Regions from separate parts of the Homo sapiens genome. Here all the other regions are linked to region 2. The links come from fine-mapping of genetic effects on gene expression. A gene starts in region 2. Each other region holds a variant in brackets. All regions are shown on one strand. Distances are from middle to middle.

Region 1 (6,203 bases), 950 kb after region 2:
GTTGTAAAACTCTAGGTTTGCAGCAATATTTGACTAATACAGATGTGGAAGTGGGCAGAGACATGGAACATTCAAAAGTTATGTTGGAAAGAGGGCTAAGGACTCATTGAATGGAGGCATGAACAGAATATAAGAACGATCACATAAGCCGGGCGCAGTGGCTCACGCCTGTAATCCCAGCCCTTTGGGAGGTCGAGGTGGGCGGATCACAAGGTCAGGAGATCAAGACCATCCTGGCTAACATGGTGAAACCCCATCTGTCCTAAAAATACAAAAAATTAGCCGGGCATGGTGGCGGGTGCCTGTAGTCCCAGCTACTCCGGAGGCTGAGGCAGGAGAATGACGTGAACCTGGGAGGCGGAACTTGGCAGTGAGCCGAGATTGTGCCGCTGCACTCCAGCATGGTGACAGAGTGAGACTCTGTCTCAAAAAAAAAAAAAAAAAAAAAAAAGAACAATCACATAAACAGGCAGCAAGGGAGAAGGGAGTCAAAGCTGACTAACTGGTGAAGCCCAGGTTGAATGCTGACATTACTGGCTAAAATGACTATTTCAGTAACCATGGAATGATAAAGTTAAATGGGATCTTGAAATTATTTTTGATATTGCAATCTCCAAGGCAGAATTAGCATGCAGAATTATTTTGTTTGGCCAAGATAGTTTTTTTTAAATTTGAATTTGAATGCAGTGGACAGATCATACATCCTCCTGTTCCTTACGTTATCTACTTCTCGTTTTTCATCCTCCATACCGTCAAATGCATTTGAGATTATGCTCCCTGGCAATCTCATTACCACATATCCCCAGGCACATTAAAGATGACTGAGAGATATGCAAGTTATATGACAATAGCTGTATGAACTGAACACTTATGTGTTCAGACATTGTTTTATGTGATTTGTATGTTTTATCTCAAGAATCTTCATTTTGAAGATAGGGCAAAAGGAGTTTAAATGACTTGCCTGAGGTCAACAGTTGGAAGTGGAAGAGCCAATATTTGAATAGTCCAGTTTATTGAGCAGTTTCAACTTGGTCAGCTTAAACATAAATGAGATTATTGTTTGGTGAACGCTTTCTGCAGCTAACCTAATGCATCCTGCTTCCTTTCCTGAGACCACATCAATCTCTCTCTGTTTTTGTTTTTTTGTTTTTGTTTTTTTTTTTGAGATGGAGTCTCACTCTGTCACCCAGGCTGGAGTGCAGTAGCACAATCTCCGCTCACTACAATCTCTGCCTCCTGGGTTCACGCCATTCTCCTGCCTCAGCCTCCCGAGTAGCTGGGACTACAGGTGCCCGCCACCACACCCGGCTAATTTTTTTGTATTTTTAGTAGAGACAGGGTTTCACTGTGTTAGCCAGGATGGTCTCCATCTCCTGACCTCGTGATCTGCCTGCCTTGGCCTCCCAAAGTGCTGGGATTACAGGCATGAGCCACCGTGCCCGGCCGAGAGCACATCTCTTAACTGCAACGAGTGATTTCAGAGGATAGCTTTTTATTACACTCTCTTTGTTATATGGTCAAGGTAGAAAATCTACAGGTAAGCTGCTTTAAAGAATTTTTTTTTTACTACTTAAAAAAAATTAACTCTTCTGAATTACTTTTCCTTAAATAGCTGAACTGAACTATTACTGTTTTTTTTTTTTTAACATACTGTTAGCAAAACTGTGGGGAAACAGGTCTGATGATTCATGGGTGTAGCATACAAACCTACATGAACCCTTATGCAGGCATTTAGTTAGTATCTATCAAAATTTTAAATTCATACATCTGCTTTGACTCAGCAAATACACTTCTGGAAATTTGTTCCACAGAAATACTGCTTAGCTATGAACTGATGTTATTTACAAGGGTATTGTTTGAACAGCAAAAGTCTGAAAATAACCTAAATATCCATCAACTGGGGAGGGCTTAAATTAATATATGTCCATATAGTGGGATATAATGCACCTGTAAAAGTAAGATTGTTCTTCATGTAATGATGTGGAAAATTTATAAAAATTCTTGTTAAAAAAGTAAGGTGCATAAAGGTATGTAGGGTATACTCCTTTTGGTGTAAGGAAGGAGGAAACAGGTCAGGCATGGTAGCTCAGGCCTGTAATCCCAGCACTTTAGAAGGCCAAAGTGAGAGTAGCCAGGTGTGGTGGCACATACCTGTGGTCCCAGCTACTCAAAAGGCTGAGGCAGGAGGATTGCTTGAGCCTGGGAGGTTGAGGCGGCTGTGAGCCATGTTTGCACCACTGCATTCTAGCCAGGGCAACAGAATGAGACCCTGACTTGGAAGAAAAAAAAAAAAAAGAAGGAAACATATATATTTGTACTTGCATAATAAAACCCTGGAAGCATACACAAGAAATGAATAAATGTTGTTACCTTAGGATAGAAAGGGACAGGACAGGTGGGGCAGGTGTGGGAGAAAGATCTACACTGCATTTAAAAAAATACATTTTTAAACTGCACGAATGTGTTAAAACATTGAAAAACAAAGCAATCACTGTTTTATATATATATAT[T/ATATATT]AAAATATTAGAAATAGAGTCTGCATTCAACTACTAGATAATTACTCATTTTTGTGGATTATCCATTAAAAATGTTGATAGTTGGAGAAAAGCACTAGACTTAAGCATCAGGTGTTTTGAATCTGGGTCTATCAATTACTAATTGTGTGATCTCCAGTCAGTCTCTTCTTTTTGGAATTGTTTTCTCATTAGGAAAATTTGTTAAGCCAGATGGTTTCTGTTCTAGTTCTGAGTCACTCTTTTCTCCCCCTTAGCAAATGACTGGGGAATGCAACACAATCTTGACATTTCCCTTCACAAAACTTGATTGGAAAGACCACCACTTTTGCATTTTGGCATCAGGATTCTTTGTCTGGAAGCAAGTGAAACTGACCCTGTTTAGCTTAGGCACAAAGTAGCTCATAGAGTCAAGGGAGAGCTGGAAAACCAAAGAGAAAGTTTGTGTATTTCCTTCCAGGGCACTCAATTGAAGGACTTCTTTTAACTGCCTTGTGCAACTGCATGTTTGCGATAAAGATTCAAATTCCCAGAAGAAAAAAAAATAATGAACTCTGAAGTTAAGGGAGCAGCGTTCTGCCATTGAAGCCACTTCACAACCTCATGCCATTAGAGATAAATGATGCTGTAATGAAAGGATGTTGGGCAAACAGAAACAATACCTATCCAGGGAAGCATTCTCCTTGTTAGAGCTGCTCTTCAGCCATCTAGTTGATTGGAGCTGATAGACCCTATCTCATGTATCTTAGTCTCTTTGTGTTGCATAATGGAATACCTGAGGCTAGGTGATTTATAAAGAAAGAAAGTTTATTTGGTTCTTTGGACTGTACAAGAAGCACGGCACCAGCATCCACTTGTTGCGAGGGCTTCAGGCTGCATCCACTCATTGCAGAAGGAGAAGGGGAGCCACACTATGCAGAGATCACATGGCAAGAGAGAGCAGGCGGAGGTGCCAGGCTCTTTTCAGCAACCAGCTCTCTGGAAAGGTAGGGGGAAACTCTTGCAGGAACTCATGGAGTGAGAGCTCACTCATTACAATGAGGATGGCTCCAGGGTATTCATGAGGGATTCACCCTCATGACCCAAATACTTCCCTTTAGGCCCCACCTCCAACAATGGGGATCAAATTTCAGCATGAGATTTGGGGGGACAAATATCCAAACTATATAATGTGCACATGTAAACCTCAAGGCCAAAACAGTGGTGTGTGTGAAAACAGTTAAAGCTCGGATAGATCTTGTTATTGCTGTGAGAAGAACTGGTGGCTCAAGCTGCTATATCATCATGGTAACCTAAGGCTAAGGGAAGACTATCCTAGGGCTTGGGGGGTAATTCTTAAAACTGATAAACACATAAAATTCACAGGTACTCAAAACTATGACTGTGATATTCATCATCTCAGTGATGGTTAATATTGAGTGTCAACTTGATTGGATTGAAGGATGCAAAGTATTGTTCCTGGGTGTGTCTGTGAGAGTGTTGCCAAAGGAGATTAACATTTCAGTCAGTGGACTGGGCAAGGCAGACCCAACCTCAATCTGGGTGGGTACCATCTATTCAGCTGCCAGTGTGGCTAGAATAAAGCAGGCAGGGGAAGTTGGAAAGAGAGACTTGCTGAGTCTTCCAGACTTCATCTTTCTCCCATGCTGGATGCTTCCTGCCCTCAAACATCAGACTACAAGTTCTTCAGCTTTTGGACTCTTGGACTTACACCAGTGGTTTGCTAGGGGATCTCAGGCCTTTGGCCACGGACTGAAGGCTGCACTGTTGGCTTCCCTACTTGTGAGGTTCTGGGACTCGGACTGGCTTCCTTGCTCCTCAGCTTGCAGATGGCCTATTGTGGGACTTCACCTTGTGATATGTGAGTCAGTTCTCCTAATAAACTCCCCTTCATATATACATATATCCTGTTAGTTCTATCCCTTTAGAGAGCCCTGACTAATATAATCTCATAATAGTTTTTGAACTGAATTTCTGAAATTCAACAAGTAACTTTTGCAAAGGACTACCATGTGGCACAGAAGTTTTTGTCCTGAAATTGTCTACCTTTGCAGCAGTTGGACTTTTTCACTGAGATTTGCCCCTGTTGGTTACTTCATGGTCTTTCCTCCAATGGTTACTCTTCCAGTTCTTGCTGAAAGTCAATTCAGAATTGTTTTCTGAATGGGAAGCAACATCTCTGATCAAGCAGTGTAATTCCTAGCTTATATAGATGAGAAAACTGAATTCCAGAGAGGTTATATAAATTGCCCCGGGTTACACAGCTAGTCATCCAGTCAGTCCAAGCTCACATAGACCATCAGCCAATCCTAATTTTAGTGCTCATTTTAGGTGGATCTAGCCTATGGATAGAGAGGTAGGGGCCACTCTGACAAATTTCTGAATATATCTCATAGTCCTTGTGCTGTTCTTTTTTTCTTTTTAAAAATTTTAACATTTAAAATTTTTATGGGTACATAATAGGTGTATATACTTATGGGGTACATGAGATATTTTAACACTGGCACATAATGTGTAATAATCACATCAGGGTAGATGGTGTTTCAGTCACCTCCAGCATTCATCATTTCTTTCTGGTTATGAACAATTCAATTTTACTCCTGCAGTTATTCTGAAATGTACAAAAAATTATAGCTAACTGTAGTCAACCTGTTGTACTATCAAGTTCCAGGTCTTTCTCATTCTATCTAACTATAATTTTGTACCCATTAACCATCCCCATTTCACACCACTTCCTACTACCCTTCCCAACCTCTGGTAATCATCATTCTATTCTCTATCTACCTGAGTTCAATTGTTTTAATTTTTATTTCCCACAAATAAGTAAAAACATGCAAAGTTTGTCTTTTTGTGCCTGGCTTTTTTCAATTAACATAGCTTCCTCCAGGTTAACCCATGTTGTTGCAAATGACAAGATCTCTTTCGTTTTTATGGCTGATTGCTCTATTGTATATATGTACCACATGTTCTTTATCCTTTCATCTGTTGATGGTCACTTAAGTTGCTTCCAAATCATAGCTATTGTGAATAGTGCTGCAATAAACATGGAAGCACAGATATCTGATACACTGATTTCCTTTCTTTGGGGTATAGACGTAGCAGTGGGATTGCTGGATCATATAGTAGCTCTGTTTTTATCTTTTTGAGAAACATCTATACTGTGCTTCACAGTGGCTGTACTACTGCTTTACATTTCCTCCGGCAGTATACAAGAGTTCCCCTTTCTCCACATCCTTATCAGCATTTGTTATTGCCTATCTTTTGGATGAAAGCCATTTTAACTGGGGTGAGATGATATCTCATTGTAGTGTTGATTTGCATTTCTCTGATGATCAGTGACGTAGAGCACCTTTTCATATACGTGTTTGCCATTCTATGTCTTCTTTTGAGTAATGTCTATTCGTATCTTTTGCCCATTTTTTAATCAGATTATTAGATTTTTTTTCTATAGATTTGTTTGAGCACCTTATATATTCTGGTTATTAATCCCTTGTCAGATGGATAGTTTGCAAAAATTTTCTCTCATTCTATGGGATGTCTCTTCACATTGTTGATTGTTTCTTTTGCTATGCAGAATCTTTTTGATTTGATATGATCCCATTTGTCCATTTTTGTTTTGTTTGCCTGTGCTTGTATTTCTCAAGACGTCTTTGCCCAGATCAATGTCCTGGAGAGTTTCTTCACAGTTTTCATGTA
Region 2 (6,203 bases):
ATAAAGGTTTTATGGCAAAATAATTTGTGTTCTTTATCTTTGCATTCAGTGATTGCCACTTGGCATAAATGCTTGTTGAGCCAAGCCTGAGATAATGATTGAGCTAAGACTTGAAGGTGAGCAGGAGCTCATGAAATAAAAATGTAGGGAAAATGTATCCCAAATATAGTATTTAATAATGTATTAATATATGAACAAGTGATCGAATAGGACAAAGTATATTAAAAAACACAGTCTTTCAAATAACTCAGTTCATCAGGAATATAGGATTCACAAGGGGAGAGAATGACACATGGGATTAGAGAGGTGGATCAGGGCCAGATTCACAAAGTGCCTGCATTTATACGACAATTTTTATTGAGCTGCTAACCTGTGCCAGGCACTATGCTCAATGCTGAGGGTATAGCATGCAACCCCTGCTCTCAGGAATCCTTTGTTCATTTCTCATACCTCATTTTATCCTGTGAGGAGACTTTGAGGAGCTGTAAGCAGAGCTGTAGCATAGCCATTTTCAGGTTTTAGGAAGATAACTCTACCATAATAGGCTGGATAGTAGGTTTGAGCAGGTGATACTGAAGGCAGGGAGACAGGTAGGAGACTTGCAACTGTCTGCGTGAGAGATCATGAGGGGCTGAGCCAAGGCATTGGCAGTGGGATTGGAGAGGGTAAGCTCCAGAGCTCAAACTCGTTCTGAAACTTAGAGCTCCTTTTCCAGGATGCTTGACACCCTCTTCAGATGAACAGAGTGTAACTCACTGTGGGCTAGACATACCATTCCTGCTCCCCCTTCCTGAGTGCCTGTGCCCCTCAGCTCTTTTGCTCAGACCCCTCCTTTCCGGCTTAGGGTACAGTTCAAGACCACCTATAGCTCAAGCTCTCAGAAGTCTCTTAACACTCTTACTTGCTGCTGTCCTACTTTTGGTGACTAACCACCAGAATAGGTTAGAGAGCAGAGGTTATTGTTTTAGGTTGCTGTGGTATCTCCCTGCAGTTGACAGCTGCTTGAGGGCAGAGATGCTGTTTTGTTCTCCCTTGACCCTCAGGCCCTAGAATGGGCAGAAACAGTACATGTTCCTGATGACTGTGCCCCCCAACTTTGTGAGACACACCGGAGGTACTGATGGCTGAAAAATTCCATCACCACGCTTCTGTCCAGCACTGTCTGAGGAAGGCTTATCTCCCTTAAGCACACTTCTTGAGTCACTCTCTGCTTTTAAACCTCCCACAGCTTCTCATTTCCCCTTGAACTCTCCTTAGCTTTTATGGTCAATCAATCCCTTCACTCCATATTCCCCCAGTAGATACCTCTGCTCTCATCAGACAGAGGCTTGTTCAGACAGAAACACACCTTGTTAAGGTCTGCTTCTGATTTTTACTGTCACTTGCGGTGATCCCCTGTCCAGAGGCTTCCCTCACTTGTCCCTCTGTTGGTCCAGAATCAAGGACATCCTTCACATCTCAGAAACCCACCCAGTCCCATATGGTTCCAACTCTCAGAGATCTCCCTACGGCTAAACTGTGGCAATTAGAGGACTGTCATAAGACAAAACTACTTCTATGACCCCCATCTTATCAGACAATTGCATTCTCCCTTCTACAAATTTTTGTATAATGCTGAGAAAGAAGTAGCTCTCTGAAATGGCAACTCCAAGACTTCAATGAAACTTTTAGCATCTGTTGGTCAATCCTCCTGCTGATACTGAGTCACCACTCATTTGTGGTGATTCTAAACCTCATTTTATGATTCACATTCTAAAAATGGGGTGAGGTTTTTACCAAGCAACTAATTCCAGTATGAACTTAACCTCACAATTATTGGGTTCTTCTGTGGGTTTCCAGCTGCTTAGCACAGCACTTTTCAAGGTCTGATTTCTTATGGCTTATTGGTGTGGCTCTTCCATGGCAAATACCTAAAATCCATTTTATGGATTTATGGTATGGAATATGATGGGGGGTTCCATGTGATCAATTTGTTCCACCAGTCTTCATTGGGACCACTCATTGTCTGTCACCAGCCCATGTCTGGTCTGGGACAAGTGAAGGAAGGATAGATAAAGTTTTGGGGCTCTTTTTTCGTTCATACGTTCTGAGGAATGGTCTTGGTACTTTGGCCAGAATGCACCTATATCTATAATGAAGAGGATTTAGAATCTGCCTTCTGGGCACTGTAGCTGAGCACATGACTCTACTTAGCATTTTGAACAATGACTGAAACCAGATTCTGCAAATGACAGAAATGCAGTGGTTTCATGAAATCTGCATTCCAGTCCCAAGACTTCTACGAACAAGTTACGCAACGTTGGGCGAGTCATTTAACAATAGCAGCAGTGCTGGCGATGGCTAACATTGGTTTGGAATGGAGCCTGGGGCACAGTAAGCCCTCTGTAAGGTCACCTGCTGTTTTCATTGTCATCGTTACAGAGGGTTTATTACATCCAGTCCTTAGTACTTGGCGTACATTATCTTGTTTAATCCTCGGAATTATGGAGTGAGTTTTATTATTCTTTCTGTACAAGGTTGAACTGAAGCTTAAAGAGGTTGAGTTATGAGTCCACGACTGTATAGGACTCCAAGACTGTATAGGACTCAAATCCGAACAACCTAACTCCTGGGCCTGTGATCACAATCTCTATTCGTGTGCCTGATTTCCTTGGGCCTCAGTTTTCTCATAACACCTGAAGTTGTTGATCTTTAAAACCTTTCAGTTTAAAATTTTTAAATATTTTCCTCTTACCTTCACCTTCGTCCCCTGTTCTCTTCCCTACCCCACTTATCCATGACTTTTGCTGGGTTCATCATTGCAGGATTGGCAGGATGTTTTCCCCATTGAGTGATGACACTGCATGTGTCAGCATAGGGACTTGTATTGTGGGTTTTTTTTTTTTTTTTTTTGACGGGTGCTGTGGGGCTGGTTTACATGCTGCTGTCGTTGAAAGAGGAGGAATCTGACTCTTCAATTTTACTGCCTTATCTTGGCCCGCAGCCATTACCACATTGAGTGACACACATTTGACAGGGCTTGAGAAAGTCGTCAAAGGCAGAAGCCAGTGGGAATCAGCTCTTTGTGCTTGTGGACCCTGCACTGCTCTCTGGTAAGATCTGGTTTGGGAGACCTGCTCTCTCCAGGCTGTTTGCCTATGTCTGGCCTTGTGGTTGGCAAGGATCCTAGGAGAGGGACTTGGAGAAGAGGCTTCTGGGCTTCCCATCCTTTATACAGCTTGGGGTGTGCTGGCAAACTTTCACATGGGGAGTTTCCCGGACATTTCATTACAGTTCCATTGTAATTGATATTTGTAAAGTACTTAAGTTGGGTGATAGTCTATATGTACTGTATTCTGTTGTACTTCTTTGCGGCTGTGACACCAGGGTTAGAGTGTTTTGGCTGCAGAAGACCTGGGCTCAAGGGTTGGATCTATCACTTAGTGTGGTGCTTCAAACACACCTGCTTGTTATGGCTTTTACTTGATTATTCTTTGGGTGAGATCTTATTATGAAGAAAAGTCAGCCACTGTGCTGAGATTTGTAAACTCTTCCACTTAGCCTGGAGGAAGCATTTTACCAAAAGGGCCTGGAAGCACTAAAAGTATTAGGTAAGTCACTTAATTTTTCTCAGCCCAAATTTCTTTATCCATAGAAGAATTAGAGTACTATGAGTCCTACTCATCAAAATGGCTACTGAATCAAGTGAAGTATGGTATGAAAATGTGTTTCTGAAAATTATAAATTCTATATAAACATTAGTTGTTTTTAGGAAGCATCATATGCCAAAACTGTTTTAAACACCAAAAAAGCAAAAGCTGTTCATGTTTTTACCGATTTTCCCACCTAGAGATTATTTACTGCAGATGATAACCTGTAGTAAAATTTCCTAAACTTTTCATTGTGCAGCAATTGGAAGACTGTGAGTTAAGTTGTTCTAGAAACTATCTGAATATTGTGTATATTTAGTTAATAAGAACTGATATTGTTCAAGGTATATAGTAGCTCTTCTATGGAAGCACATTAATTTTAGATAAATTCAGATTTTATTAATTCATTATAAATCATTATTAGATCAAGAGCTAGGTTCAGGTTGTAAAAAGATATTAATACCATGAACAAAATTATGTCAATTAAGAATCTTTCTGTATTCCTAGAACATAATTGCAGTGTGAGCAAAGGCTAGACCATTGTAACTAATTTAAATAGGCCTAGATTGAAAATGTTACTCTAACTCACATTTTTCACTACCACAGATGTTCCCTATCCTCTTACTCCAAATGAACAAGATCACTTCATTTCTATTTTTCTTGATTGATAAACCATGCTTGGAGATACCATCTGGAGATTGTTGGGTTTCTGCCAGAGATTTAAATCAGGTTTATAAAGAGTTACCTGCCTAAGGCAAGAAACTGGACTAATTTAATAGAAAAGAACATGCTTTTATTTTGCCAGCTAGTAAGAGAAAGTGAAAGCATTTTGAAAAGTTTTAATATTTGTTTAGCAATGATAGTATTATAGATGACAATATTTCTAAAATACAATAATTAGGGAAATTAGAGAATCTAATTGCTGAAATTTGTGTAATTATTTGCAAGTGTGATATGAAGGCTTATCTAGAAACCTTGATGCTAAAGACAGACATTTCAGTATAAAAGGTGAGGGCATGACAGGAACAGAGTGAAGTAAGGCAAGTTGGAAACCACCCCAAGCCTTCTTGTGGGCAGCGCTAAAAGCCCTAGACCTATGTGGATTCAGTGTAATGTGATGGTTATCCTTTTTAATTTTTTGTTTGTTTGTTTGTTAAACAGATTTCTGCCTGGCAGATTAACCAACGGCAAGAGAGGCTGATCTGTCTACATTCTGAGTACTGCCCTTGGCAAGACACCTAGAACAGACCCTGGACCCAAGTCTACCGTACTACCATACCCCTACTCCAGCCCACCCCAGACAGTATTCTGGGGTTCACCTGAGGTCAGCAGTGTGAAGATGACCAGTGCCTTTTTAGCATGACGACTTTGGACCATGTGATTGCCACCCACCAGTCAGAATGGGTCTCCTTCAATGAAGAGCCACCCTTTCCTGCCCACTCGCAGGGTAAGGAGTGCCTTCGTTTCCTAAAGTGAAGAGATTGTCAAAGAACCATGTCTATTTGTTATGGCTTCTACTTGATTATTCTTTGGGTGGGATCTTAATATAGAAAAAAGGGTCAGTTTCTCACTTTCTTTCTTGAGATCTTAGAATCCTAAGTGGAAGAATTTACACACTGAAAAAGCATCTTGGGAACCTTAGGGCCCTAAAAAGAGGCTTGGAAACACCAAAGGTAGTGGCTCTTTTCTCCCAAGAAACAAAAACTTAATATTTACCAAATACTTTACTCTCAGCCTTTTTAAAATGTAGTTATTAAAAGTAGTTGTTAAAAGTGACAGGCTCTGGAGCCAGAGTGCTTGGGTTCAAATCCCTGTTGCACCAGGGATGAGTGATATGCTTTTGGGTAGATTATTTATTTAACCTCTCCATGCATAGCTTCATTATCTGTACAGTAGGGATAATCAGTACCTATCTCACAGGTTGCTGTGAGGCTTAAGTGAATTCATACATAAAAGTGCTTAGAGCAGTGCCTGGCACGTGGAAAGAGCTCAGTACGGTCATCCTTGATCATAAGGAGGATGACTATATTGACTTTGGAGAACTTGTGCTCAGGGATGAAGGTCAAGGTAGGATCCAGGAGATATTTGCAGAGACATGTGAGTTGGTTCTGTTCTACTACAGCTACCAGTGCCAACTGAAGTCATCCCACCGTCATTTATAACACCTAGAAAGTGTGAGTCGACAGGTATGCTCTCCAATATGGTGGCCATGTGGTTACTGAGCCCCTGAAATGTGACAAGTCTGAATTGGGATGTGCTGTAAGCATCAGATACCTATGCTAAATTTCAAAGACCTAGTTTAAAAAAATTAAATAGCTAATAATTTTATATTTCTTACATGTTGAAATTATAAATTTTCAGCATTGGGTTGAAATGTGTATTATTAAAATACTTTCTCCTGTTGTGTTTAATTTTTTTCATGTGGCTACTAGAAAATTTAAAATTACATATGTAGCTCACATTTTATTTCTGTTTGACGTGCTGTAGAGGCTTTGAATACTTGCAGATGGACCGGTTGGCTAGTGATGGGAGAAAAGATTTTATATTAATTATTTGATTAAAAACCTTTATACA
Region 3 (6,203 bases), 57 kb after region 2:
TAATGTCCAAGCTAATGAGTTTTAGATCATACATCCTTTTCTCTGGTCCCAAAGTCCTTTGGGGGAAGGCCTGGGTCTTTGTAATTCCTTGAGGTCTCTTTTTATAGTGACCTGTAGTCCGTCTTCTCATTGAAGTTGTGCTGACATTCTTCTTTACATTACAGATCCATTTGCACCCACCTCACTACCTCAGGGGCACCTCTTCCTTCTATTCTCAAATTACTCAGGTCCTGGAAAAAAAGCTCCTTTTTGATGTGATACTAAGATAAGTTTTCCCAAAAAATGAGAGTTAATGTTTCATATTTGCTTCAAAGGAGAGAATGACTTCACAACTTTCATTGGGTCAAAGGGACGAAACATCATAAAAAGTTCAGGAGACCGAGCTACTGGAAAAGAGCAGCTTTCTCTGATAGAATTTACTGCTGCTGAGCACATCTGCCATGAGACTCAAGAACAAATCACATCACCACTTTGTGATGCATCTGGAAACTCAGACAAGTGTTGCAAACAGGGCTGTCAACAAGATGTCAGCCCTTCCAGTGGCAGTACCAAGGATGCTCATTGGACTTTTCTTCTGTGAAATTGATAGCTGACTTTTCCTCAGGCTTATATGGAGTCTTATATGTATTAGTCTCCTAAGGCTGCCATAACAAAGTACCACAGACTAAGTGGCTTAAACAACAGAATTTTTTTTTTTTTGAGACAAAGTCTGGCTCTGTCGCCCAGGCTAGAGTGCAGCAGCATGATCTTGGTTCACTGCAACCTCTGCCTCCTGGGCTCAAACCATCCTCCCATCTCAGCCTCCCACATAGCTGGGACTACAAGAATGTGCCACCATGCTCGGCTAATTTTTGTTTTTTTGTAGAGACAAGGTTTCACCATGTTACCCAGGCTGGTCTCGAACTCCTGGGCCCCAGCCATCCTTCTACCTCAGGCTCCCAAAGTGCTAGGATTACAGAAATTTATTTTCTCACAATTCTGTGTCCGGAAGTCCAAGACCAAGGTGTCAGTAGAGTTGGTTTCTTCTGAGGCCGCTCCTTGGCTGGGAGATGGCCAGTTTTCTCCCTGTATCTTCACATGATCTCCCCTTTGTGGTGCCTGTATCCTAACATCCTCTTCTTATAAAGACAACATATTGGATTAGGGCCCACTGCAATGACTTCATTTCATCTTAAATACCTCTGTATGATACAGTCACAATTCTGAGGTACCAGGGTCAGGAATTTAACATGTATTGTGTGGGACACAATTCAGCCCATAATACTATGTAACTACAATTCAGAAGTTTCCTCCCAACCCTGCCCAAGATAACCAGTTTGACACTGTAAGCCCAACCTATATAGTATTTCTGGACCCATTATATGCATTGTCACAAGCTATAGGAGCTGGGTTTTGGATCCAACATTTATAGCTTACTTCCCACAGATGTAATAAGGAGGAAAGAGTTGTTTATGTTTAATAAGTCTCTCAATCAGCCTTTTCATCTGCTTACCTACAGAATGACTTGGTGGTTCGCCAAGGGATTAGTTTATCCCACTGCTCTCATTGGCTTACATGCCAATTCAAAAGTCAATACTACATTAGTTCATAAAAGAAAAACTGCAAAGAAAGGATATGAAAAACATCATTTAATCCCAATAATCAGCTGTGTGGATTAAACGGTAATGTCTATTGACTTGGTAAAGTTAAAATGCTTGAAAATATCTAGTGTTGAGAGTGGAGAATTGGGAATTTGCATGCGAGAACTGTGGGAAGATCTTTCTGGAAGGCATTCTTGGCAGTCAGTGTCAGTCTAAATGTCATACTCTTTAGCTATTAGTTTATCCCAAGGAAGTAATTAGACATGTGGCTGTGTGTACAGTACTGCAGTGTTTATATTAGCAAAAGCAAAGCCCAGCTATCTAAGCAAATGTCAAATAACATATGATACATACATACAGTGGAATACTATGCAGTCATGGAAATTATCCCAATTACATTGTTAATTGAAAAGGTAGGTTACAGAATAGAATGTGTAATCATTTTGCTGTATTGGCCTCTATTTAATTTTGCTATATTAGTGTGTGTGTTTATATGTATATTTCTAAATATCTAGGAAAAAGTTTGATAGGATATATCCCAAACTGCTAATAGTGGTTATCTAGAGGACATAGGACTTTTATTCCTTACTGCATTTATTTCTGTATAATTTGAGTTATTTATAATAAGTATACGTTAATCTAAAAATCAGAAAAAATTAGAATGAAAATATTTCTATTTTGAAATAAAATGAAATATCTTACGGGGACTATTTTTAAATTTCTTTTATGATAGATGTGTTTAGGGGCTGACCTGTTTGCTCAGGGGCTAGGGGCTGGCTTGTTTGCTTTGGGGAGGGCTAGTCTTTCAAATATTTCTGTCTTTTCCGTATGAAAGAGCCATGAGCTAGTGGTTAATTTCTCACCAGCATAATGCTAGTTCCGTATTCTTTACAGGACATAGGTATAGTATAATGGAAAGTCATAGTGTTCAGAGTTTGACAGAACAGGGTTAAACACCAGCTCTAACACTTCCCTGCTCTGTGATATTGGGCAAATCATGTAACCTCACTGACCTTTAGTTTCCTCAGCTGTAGAATGGAAATAATAATAATAATGATGACAATACTGAGCTGCAGGTTTGTTCTGAAGTTTAAGTGAGACCAGGTACATAAAATGCCTGGAATATGATAAGGAGTAGCTTTTATGAGTATGACAATATAATGTACTTTTCAGAATGCCTTATATTTTAAAACTAAGACTTAGTGAATGGGAAGAAAATTTTTTAAGGTTGTAGAAAAACAGCTGCATCTAACTAGAAAAAGTTTCATTTGATATCCTTGGCTAGTTTTCATAAAGGCGGTTTCTTTTATTCTTTCAGTTCTCATTGACTGAAGGGTGGGCTCACCCGATATGCTTTGTGAAATGCTTGTGTCTGTGGCATTTTGCTGCAGAATTGGAATCAGGAAGAAAAGCTTTCTTGAGAAGAGGTGGGAGGGAGGGTAGGGTGGGAGAAGGGAGATGCTGCCAGGTTTACTTGTATGAGTTGCCTCCCCTCTCCCCCTCCCCAGGACTGATTTGTTTGTACAAATTGGTTGCCGCAAGCAACACATTGTTAGTTTGAGCCAGAATGT[A/G]TCCCAGGAGACTTACTGCTTTCTCTTTTGCCAAATTATTGTCCTTTTCCCACAGAGGATGCTGGGATTGGGGGGCATTTTTCACTTTGGCATATATCAATCCAATTCTCCCCCTTTCCCTCAGTGTCTGCTATTTGCAAGGCACTGTGTCATTTCACCACATTTAGAATGCTACCAGTTGTGAGCTGTTAACTTTTATTTTCAACTTATGTGTTTTCTCCTAAACCCTCGGTACTGGTATCTAAGGAAAGAAGATGATATTCCTGGAGGAAGCATGCCCTACCCTCCCTGAGATGTGGTCTCCACTTATAACAGGATGGCTCTCCTGCCTCACTGACATAGGCATTGCCGCTTGACTTGTGTTGGGGCCAGTGGAAAGCAGGTGGAAGTGACATTTCCAGTGCGGATTTCTCTGTGCTTCCACCACCACTCTTTTTCCTCTGTCAAAACCACCCATTACTGCCTCACAGGTTGCCCCTCAGACCCTGGCTTGGACTCTGTTCTGGCGCTCTCTGGCTTCACTTGTCCCCATGCCCCCCCTTCTAGACCATGGTTCATGTACCCGGGACTCCAGGATCCTCTACCTAGGCAGACCCTGGCTCTCTTCTGTGGCCTCTTCCAAGATCTGTGCACCTAAGCGTGGACCATGCTGCTCTTGTGTGCCCCTAGACTTATGGGGACCGGGAATAGAGCTCAGATGTGTGGATCAGGAGGGCCCCACACAGCACACAGGGCCTTCACAGTGCAGGCTGGAGCAGTGCAGTGAACGGGGAAAGGGAAGGGAGCAGGCCTCAGGCCAGGGGCTACCTTGCCCTGCACTGTGACATTTCTGTGTGGAGCTCCAAGGATTCCGAGAAATCAAAAGTCCATTATGGGCTGGGCGCAGTGGCTCACTCCTGTAATCCCAGCACTTTGGGAGGCTGAGATGGGCGGATCACCTGAAGTCAGGAGCTCAAGACCAGCCTGGCCAATGTGGCGAAACCCCATCTCTACTAAAAATACAAAAATTAGCTGGGCGTGGTTGTGGGTGCCTGCAATCCCAGCTACTCAGGAGGCTAAGGCAGGAGAATCACTTGAACCTGGGAGGCAGAGGTTGCAATGAGCCGAGATCTCACCATGGCACCCGGGCAACAAGAGTGAAACTCCATCTCAAAAAAAAAACAAAAAAACTCCATTATGGCTTTCTGCGTTGTTATGAACATAATATTGGTCAAGGAGTATAACACATAATTTAACAGTCTAGCGTGGTTTATACTTTTAAATGCTTAAACATGTATTATGTGAGCCAGCATCTGAACTCCTAGATCAGTGCCTGTGAATGCCAGGGATGAGTCAGATGCTGTAGACAGGATCTGTTCTTTCAACCTGAGCCCTGAAATGAAAATGAGGAATGGAGCTGCAGGTGACCCTTGTTGGGTATAAATGGGAAAAATAAATCTTTGTGATTTTACGACATGAAGATTCTGAGATTATCTGTTACTGTGGCATAATTTAGATTAGGGTTATGGATTCCAAAAGGAAAAAGTGACATTTGTTGAAAGCTTTCTTACTTCACCTGTTTAAAATATAGTATTGGCAGAACTTTTGTTACAGTAGGTGGACTAGCACTATCTAGAAGAGTCTGAAAGGAATCCCAGGAGTTAATTGGAGCTCTGTGGGTGAGTGGGTATGTGCCCCATACACGCCCACTTGCTCCCATTGTGCCTTCTCAATTGCTAGTGTTCAAGTGCACTTTGAGGCCCTTTTTCCAGCAGTGATGATTTAGGTTAGTAATACATCAGTCTTGGCTTGCTTCCCTTGTGACCTCCCGGAAATAGGATTCAGGGCCAGACTTTTGGGAAAAAAAAAAAACAAAAAAAAAACACTTATAAAATGAGGAAATATAAAGCAAGAAGCATAGCTGATCTTATTTTTATTTTGCAAAATGTGTCCCTTATCTGTGAATTTACAATTAAACATATCCACCCAACCCTCTCCCTTCTTGTATCAACAAGCACCGTCCTGATGAATGCTTTTCAGGCCTATCAAATAGAAGGGAGTTGCTGGAGCTAAGAGTGAGGTCTTTCTGACTTGGAACAAAAGTCACCTGGTGCTCACTGGAAGTGAAACTGTGAACTTGGCCTAAGAAAATCAGATACAGACATTTGTAATAGTAGTTATGATCATTATCTTGTATGTGAAAAGTAACGTCTGTTTTCAAAAAGCTGTCACATACATGATTTTATTCATCCTTAATTACAGCCTGTGAGGTAAGCAGAAAAATGTCCTTCCTTTTTACAGAGGAGGACACTAGGACTTACTAAGTTTCAGTGATTTACCTACTGTTCTACTAGTATTAATATTGGTATTAAGAATATTAATATACCAATTATTAATATATTAACATGTATTATATAACATATTCCACTAGTGATTAGATGTTATGTAATAATCTATATAGTATATATTGATATATATTAATAGTATTTAGATAATTTATATAATGTCCTTGTCCAGGAGGCTAACTGCTATAAAAACCCAAGATTTCAGTGACTCAGCCTAGTTCATTTTCCATTCAAGCCACCGTTAGTGCGAGTTGGTGTCTGTGTGCAGTGCTCCAGAGTTCAGGAACCCAGGCTACTCTATGTCCTCAGAGTCATCTAGGTGGTGGGTGGGCTGTGGAAGTGTGCATCCTACTGGCCAGAACTCAGGGCCTGGCCACAGCTTACTGCCAGCGGGGCTGGAAAATGTGGTCCAGCTCTGTGCCCTGAAAGGACACAAATACTCACAAGACATCTGTGTGCCAAAAGCTATGGAAATCCGTAGTGCTCATCTCCCCTGATTTTAAGGGCCCTATTTAAGATCTATAGAGCCATTGTGTTTCTCTCCAGCTTTCAGGAGTGGAGTTTCATGAGTTTTGACACATGTACCCACCTGTGAAGTCATCACCATAATCAAGATAATGAACGTATCCACTAACCCCAATAGTTCCTCGTGTGCATTTATAATCACTTCCTCTCTCTCTGTCCCCCACCCCACCCCTAAGCACCCACTGCTCTGCTTTCTGTCGCTA

Alleles and levels. Alleles are on the strand shown, and positions count from the first base shown. SD is a standard deviation of normalised expression in the study named. Not every link is listed here.
In carriers of allele A in region 3, the expression in cerebellum of the gene that starts at base 3,047 in region 2 tends to be lower than with G alone (moderate effect, 0.42 SD a copy in GTEx).

The links.
Region 1: its variant is fine-mapped to the expression of STON2 in monocytes (Quach 2016, PIP 0.95).
Region 3: its variant is fine-mapped to the expression of STON2 in cerebellum (GTEx, PIP above 0.99).

What each region holds. Positions count from the first base shown.
Region 1 is chr14:80,443,099-80,449,301 of GRCh38, reverse strand. All of the region lies in intron 8 of DIO2-AS1 (DIO2 antisense RNA 1), which reads right to left. Among named protein-coding and RNA genes, the nearest start is that of DIO2, 230 kb to the right of the region's middle. The variant T/ATATATT (reference allele first, on the strand shown) is at 2,511.
Region 2 is chr14:81,397,168-81,403,370 of GRCh38, reverse strand. STON2 (stonin 2) reads left to right here and starts at 3,047. Exons shown (of 8, transcript NM_001394390.1): 1 at 3,047-3,092; 2 at 4,791-5,076. The coding sequence starts at 4,989.
Region 3 is chr14:81,340,257-81,346,459 of GRCh38, reverse strand. The region is part of intron 4 of STON2 (stonin 2); the gene reads left to right. Among named protein-coding and RNA genes, the nearest start is that of STON2, 57 kb to the left of the region's middle. The variant A/G (reference allele first, on the strand shown) is at 3,152.